Homo sapiens: one gene and its partner. The protein of the gene in region 1 interacts with the protein of each later gene in a biochemical or structural test. Each region holds a gene or a part of one and is shown in the gene's direction. Other genes may lie near its edges.

Region 1 (3,681 bases):
GAAACTTTTTAGAAGCAAAATAATCAGGGAAGTTCCTAGAAAGGTGTTTGGCTTTTTGGTTTTTGAGGGTTGGGGTAAAGAAGACTTCCCCCACAACTGTCAGCACAAAACAGGGTATTGATTTTTAACTCTGATGTTTCTATTGGAGTTGAATACTAAATAAATAACTATAATGAGGGAAATACATTTCTAATAAAATTCCCTACATTCTAGAAACATCCCTGTTTTAATTTTTTTATCTAAATCTTTTTGTGCTTTATGTGTAAAGAAAAAAATGTACTGAGTTACAATGCATTTTATTAACACTATGTACATAATAGCTGCTTTGTGTTCAGAATAGTAGCAGTTGCTTTGTATATTAAAGTGATCCTTGTGAATTTGTGAAATATTGTCATAAAGTGCTTTTTCTTACTGTAATCTTTGTGGTATCAACTGTCATAATGCTCTTTTTACACAAACATTTATGTGCAGTCACATAAACATGCTTTTAAAAACTCTGTAAGTCTCTTTTTTGGGGATGGGATCTCTATATTTTGTTGGGTTTTTTTTGCTAGTAGTGTGAAGCCATGTTTTATTGGACTTAAAGTTACAATATATTACAAGCTTGTGTTGGAAGGCAGCAAAACTAATTCAGACAACAACATGTCTTCAGTTACTGGATCCCTAATTTTCAGGACAAAACCTGTTTTTCAATAAGATTGAACAGTGCCTATTTGTGGATTTGGAGATGTTACTGTCAAGATGACTAATGGAGACATACGACCAGCTGTGTCTGATGTCATAAAACACGTGTTCACTGAAAGGACAATAAGACTATATACCTTCTCAGGTCCCCTTGCAATTCTAAAACTCTGTGATCATATAAATTGGAAGGAAAGGGGAGGGGATATGGTTAATCTTTGCTTAAGCTGTAAGAATAAAAAAGTTATCTCCTATACTATTAACTTCTGAAATAAGTTCTGAGACGAGACATCTGAAAATAAGCAGCTGCATTATTTGTATGTTTCTTCACTGCCAAGATGTGTTCAAGCCTGCTATACCTGCCATTGTATTGGAAGGCTTAATGAATTTCATTTATTTTCTGCAACAACGATTACAGAATTTATTGCACAAAATGAGACATTTTGAGAGTGATATTAATTACATGAGGGACAATAGGCATGAACTAGGATTGTTCTAAGCAAATCGGAATCGGGTCACCCTGCCACGTTCAGGTGCTTGGACCTTCAGGAAAAGATTGCCCATCTTGTCATTTGACCAGGCACTGAAGTGACAAGACCATCCTTGAGAAGTCACATCCAAAGATAAAATTCTGATCCATTTCTAGTTTTAGTGTTTCGCCACTGAAGACTTAACATATGTCTTTTACACTCAGGTTGCAAAACACAGGCCCAAGACAAACTTAACTTCTCCCCCAAATCTTCCTTCCGCTGGTTTTTCCATCTCGTAAGTGGTGCCACTATCCATCTGTTAAATTGTTTAGGGGAAACCTAGAAAAGCACTACCTTAATCAGTGTTATCCTTCTTCTTAACTGTGCGTCCTAATTTCTCCACATCTTTCTTAAGTGCAGTGACCAAACCGGATGAGAATTCTAACACGGGCCTGACATCAAATGGAAAGGAAGGATAATGTCCAGGAGTTGGAATGTTATCCTTGTTTTTAATTAAGATGCAATTCACATAAATTAACTTTTTAAGTGAACAATTAAGTGGTAGTACATCCACAATGGTGTACAACCACCACTTCTATCTAGCTCCAAAACATTCTCATCACTCCAAAAGTAAAGTCCCGTTACTCTCCATTTTCTCCTCCCACCGCCCTTGTCCCTGGCAACCACCAATCTGCTTCCTGTTTCTTTGGATTTACATCCGGGTATTTCATGTGAGACTCATACACTGTGTATTACTTCTTTCGTCTAGCTTTAATGTGTTGTTGAGGTTGATCCATTGTAACATGTTATCACTACTTCATTCCTTTTTATAGCTAAGTATACTTTTTATAGTAAGTATGCCATTGTAGATATATACCACAAGTTTATCGATTCATCCAGTTGAGTTGTTTCTACTGTTTGGCTAATGTTCATAGTGCTGTTATGAATGTTCGTGTACAAGTATTTGAGTCCGTGTTTTCAATTATTTGGGGTATATGCCTGGGAGTGGAGTTGCTGGGTCATGTTGAAATCGCACATTTAACTTTTTGAGGAACTGTCAAACTTTCCCTCAGCAGCTGTACCGTTTTACCTTCCACCATTGATGTATGAGGGTTCCAATTTCTCCACACCTTCACCAACACTTATTTTGCCATTTTAAAAATTATAGCCATCCTCATGGGTGTGGTCTCTCATTGTGGTTTTGATTTGCATTTCCCTGATTACTAATGATGTGGAGCATCTTTTGTTGTCTTTGGCCATCTGCGTATCTTCTTTGAAGAAATGTCTGTTGAGGTCCTTTGTTCATTGAAATTTTGTTGTTGGGTTCTGAGTTCCTTATATATTCTGGGTACTAGGCCCTTATAATATTTTCGCCTATAAGTTTTTGCTTTATAATGTCCTCATTGTTTTCAAACTTACTTTATGTAATATGTACACTTCTAAAAAAAAGAAACATGGAAAAGGGCAAACTGTAAGAAGTTTTTTGTGTTATGTTTTTTGTGACAGTCTGTGCATATATACACAAATATAATGTATGTTCTCTCCTCCTCCCTCTCCCTTTTTTTACACAAAAGGTAGGTACAAACAGTGGTTTATAAACTGCTGCCATTGTACAGATACAGTTTAACCAGTCCTCTTCTGGGGACATTTGGCTGTTTGAAATTTTTTACTGTTACAGATATACAGAGGTTGGTAACTAGGTCTACACAAGTTGTATCTCCAGGATACTGAGAAGTAAAAGTTATTTCTGAATTATGGTTTTCTTCATATTTGGATATTGTTTCCTAATGATTATTAGGTATCTGCTAAGCAATTTTTATTAACTTATGTTGATTACTATTTTTATGTCAAACTTTACAGTCTAGGCATTTTTTTCTGGAATTAAAATTAGAAGTGGCACAGACTTTCATAAGGCTTTCCTTTTCTCATCTCTGTTAATACTGTTTTCTTTCTAATATCCTCAGAAATAACTGTTCTTAGCAAAGAAACAAGTTTTCAATATGCCATCTTTTCTAGTGTTACTAAATTTTTAACCCCTCTGGTTGTAGAAGGAAAGGTGTAACATGATTTTAGAGCAGAAAGCTAACAATTAAATCTTCAAGTTGGGCCGGGGTGCGGGTGGCTCACGCCTGTAATCCCATCACTTTGGGAGGCCGAGGCAGAGGAGGGCAGATCACCTGAGGTCAGGAGTTCGAGACCAGCCTGACCAACATGGTGAAACCTCATCTCTACTAAAAAATACAAAAATTAGCCAGGCATGGTGGCAGGCGCCTGTAATCCCAGCTACTCGGGAGGCTGAGGCAGGAGAATCACTTGAACCCAGGAGGCGGAGGTTGCAGTGAGCCGAGATTGCGCCATTGCACTCCAGCCTGGGCGACAGAGCAAGGCTCCCGTCTCAAAAAAAACTTCAAGTTTTAAGGTAAAACAGAGCTAAGGACTGTCCGGTGTCATGCTGTTTATGTCAGTGCTAAGATAGTACAAGTTTCCAGCTTCCCAGAGGAGGGTTCTCTATACTCACTGTACTTACCAA
Region 2 (3,754 bases), on another chromosome or scaffold:
GCTGTTATCTTTTTCTGTATATGTCCAGTCTTCTCATGTAGAGTGTAAATTCGCCATAATCTTTGCGGCTGCTCAGCAGCCTGTGTGGATCTCTTCAGTAACAGTTAACACACGGTACTATAATAGTCCATTTACTTGTATTACAGTCTAATACAGATTAGACTGTAAGGTCCTTGAGGGCAGGCAGGCAGGCAGACACCATGTCCTTTGTTTATTTGCAGCCCCTGGCATATAGTAGGTACTTAATATTTGTTGAATGGATTCACTGAATGCATGAGAATCCAGGAGCAAGTCTAGTAAGTTTATTGTATTACCAGTGCCTTGCAGATGTTAGGTGGTTGATAAGTGGATGACAGTGACTGTAAAAGCTGAAGAATGCAGAGTATAGGATTGAACAGATCACTTAAACATACATTTCTTGAATGTATGTCTAAGAAAATGTCCCGCCCTCTAGTAGTAGGGGAGGAGGCCATATAAACCAGTAATTAAGATAATACTGCCTTGGGAGGCTGAGGCGGGTGGATCACGAGGTCAAGAGATGGAGACCATCCTGGACAACCTGGTGAAACCCCATCTCTACTAAAAATACAAAAAATTAGCTGGGCATGGTGGCACGTACCTGTAGTCCCAGCTACTCGGGAGGCTGAGGCAGGAGGTTCTCTTGAACCCAGGAGGCGGAGGTTGCAGTGAGCCGAGATCATGCCATTGCACGCCAGCCTGACAACAGAGCAAGACTCCCATCTCCAAAAAAAAAAAAAAAAAAAAAAAAAAAAAGATAATACTGCCTTAAGTATAACAGTAAAGGGATATTCAAGTATAAAGTTAGCAAAGAATGGGTTAGGACTTTTAGCTTTCAAATAATCAAATCTTCAACAACAATAACAAAAAGGATATTATTGGAAGGAGATTGGGTTATCTTACCCACTTATTTAGTAAGTATTTTATTTCCTCTTACATACTGGGTGCGATTTTAGATGCTTGGATGATAGGACATGTATGGTCTGTCCACTGGAAGAACTGGGTTGCATCAGGAACCATTGGAAGCAGAAACTTAGCATTGTCTGTATTTTGTCCACCTTGAATCTCTGCTTGTCACTATGTGATGGCTTTATTCTTCCCCACTACTGTGCCACTTTTCCCACATGGGAAAGATCATGCTGTTGATAGACTGCAAGTTTTACATCCTACAGCTTCCACTACTGAAAAGACACCGCCGCCTTCTCAGCTTCAGTTATAAAGATCTCAGGGAAGGACTTTTTTGGCCTGCCTTTGGTGAGGTATCCACTTTTGGATCATTCACCTAAAGCCAGGGGATGGGATCATGTTTTTGTAACATGGCAGCAATTTCTGTAAACATGGATAGGGATAAAACTAAACTCTAAGAAGAGGAGGAGTTGCTGGGAAGACATTTACTTAGATGCCTGTTATTAGGAGAGAGAGCCTAACATTGAGGAGAAGGTCGAGGAAGTTTATGTATTGTGGTGTAACAAATTATTCCAAACCTTAGTGGCTTAAACAACATGATTTGTGTGGGTCAGGAATTTAGGAGTGGCTTAGCTTATTGGTTCTTTTTTTTAATCCTAAGTGAATTAACACAGGAAGCTTCTTGATTCTAACTCAGGGACCCTCATGAAGTTGAAGTCAAGGTGTTGGCCAGGACTGCAGTCACCTGAAGACTTGTCTGGGTCTAGTGATTCCCCTTCCGAGATGGCTTACTCACATGTTGGCAGGTTCCTTGCCATGTGGGCCTCTCCATAGCGTGGCTTGAGCATTCTCATGACAGGCAGCTGGTTTCCCCAAAAACAAGTGATCTGAGAGACAGCGAGGTGGAACCTACCATGCCATGTCTTTTGTTGTTGTTTTGTTTTTTTGGAGACGGAATCTATCCAGGCTGGAGTGCAGTGGTGCGATCATGGCTCACTATAATTTCAAACTCCTAGGCTCAAGAGATCCTCCTGCCTCAGCCTCCTGAGTAACTCTGGGACTACGGGCATGCACCACCACACCTGGCTAATTTATTATTTTTTTGTAGAGACAGGATCTCATTATGCTCACACTGGTCTCCAACTCCTGGGCTCAAGAGATCATCCCACCTGGGCCTCCCAAAGTACTGAGATTACGGGTGTGAGCCAACCTGCCCGGCAAAATTAATCCATTTGTAGCATGCATCAGTACTTCATTTTGTTGTTGTTGTTGATAAATTGTGTTCCATTGTATAGATATACCAAGTTTTGTTTATGCATTCACCACTTGTTTGAAATTTGGGTTGTTTCCACCTTTTGGCTATTGTAAATAATGCTGCTTTGCACATTTGTGGACAAGTTTTTGTGTGGACCTATGTTTATTTCTCTTGGGTATGTAACAGCAGTAAAACTGCTGGATCACTTGTTAAAACAAAGCTAAACAAAGTCTGGGTTTACCTTTGTAAGAAACTGCCAAACTGTTGTCCAGAGTGGCTGTATCATTTTATATTCCCATCAGCAATTTATGAGGCCTCCAGTTCCTTCACAGCCTAACCAACATTGTCTGTCTTTTTGCTTATCATAGGGAGTGTGAAGTGATTTTCCATTTCCCTAATGCCTAATGACAAGCATCTTTTCATGTGCTTATTGGCCATTTGTATACCTTTGGAGAAATTTGATTCAGATCCTTTGCCCAGTTTAAAATTGGCTAGTTTGTCTTTTTTTATTATTGAGATATGAGAGTTCTTTATGTATTTTAGGTACATGTCTCTTATCAGGAATATGGATTTGCATATATTTTCCTCCATAAATGAGCTGTCTTTTCACTTTTTTGATGGTTTCCTTAGGAGCACAAAAGTCTTTAATTAAAAAAAAATTTTTTTTTTTAAATAATAGAGATGGGTTCCTGCTATGTTGCCCAGGCTGGTCTCGAACTCCTGGGCTTAAGTGATTCTCCCTCCTCGGCCTCCCAAAGTGTTGGGATTGTAGGTGTGAGCCACTGTGCCTGGCCTAAAAGTCTTTAATTTTTTTTTTTTTTTTTTCTGAGACAGAGTCTTGCTGTGTTGCCCAGGTGGAATGCAGTGGCATGATCTTGCCTCACTGCAACCTCTGCCTCCTGGGTTCCAGCAATTCTCATGCTTCAGCCCCCTGAGTAGCTAGGATTACAGGCGAGTGCCACCATGCCTGGCTAATTTTTGTATTTTCAATAGAGACGAGGTTTCACCATGTTGGCCAGGCTGATCTTGAACTCCTGTCCTCAAGGGATCCACCTGCCTCAGCCTCCCAAAGTGTTGGGATTACAGGTGTGAGCCACCGCTCCTGGCCCTAAAAGTCTTTAATGTTGATGAAACCTTTTTTTTTTCTTTTTCATTTTATTCTTGTGTCTAAGAAATCATTGACTAATTCAAGATTATGAAGATTGATGTCTCTGTTTTCTTCTAAGAGTTTATGGCTTTAGCTGTTACATTTAGATCATTGATCCATTTTAAGGTAATTGCTGGATATCATGTGAGGTAGTGATTCAGACTCATTCTTCTGCATGTAAATATCCAATTGTTCCAGCACCATTAGCTGAAAAGACTATTTTTTTCTCCATTTTAATGTCTTGGCACCCTTATTGAAAATCAGTTGACTATAGATGTATGGGTTTATTTATTTTATACTCTCAGTTCTCTTCCAGTGATCTATATGTCTCTCCTTATAGCAGTACCATGCTGTCTTGACTACTACAGTTTTTTAGTAAGTTTTGAAATTGAGAAGTGTGAGTCTTATTCTTCAACATTGTTTTGGTT

The links. Proteins that work in one complex are often made in the same cells at the same time.
Region 2: of the proteins of CREB1 (region 1) and RPS6KA5, one has a biochemical effect on the other in vitro, tested with the Homo sapiens proteins (3 studies listed by BioGRID, with this or other methods).

Annotation. Positions count from the first base shown.
Region 1 is NC_000002.12:207,602,935-207,606,615, forward strand, and holds the end of CREB1 (cyclic AMP-responsive element-binding protein 1), read left to right. Parts: 3' UTR 1-3,054; downstream 3,055-3,681.
Region 2 is NC_000014.9:91,053,888-91,057,641, reverse strand, and holds part of RPS6KA5 (ribosomal protein S6 kinase alpha-5), read left to right. Parts: intron 1-3,754. UniProt on the Homo sapiens protein: Serine/threonine-protein kinase that is required for the mitogen or stress-induced phosphorylation of the transcription factors CREB1 and ATF1 and for the regulation of the transcription factors RELA, STAT3 and ETV1/ER81, and that contributes to gene activation by histone phosphorylation and functions in the regulation of inflammatory genes.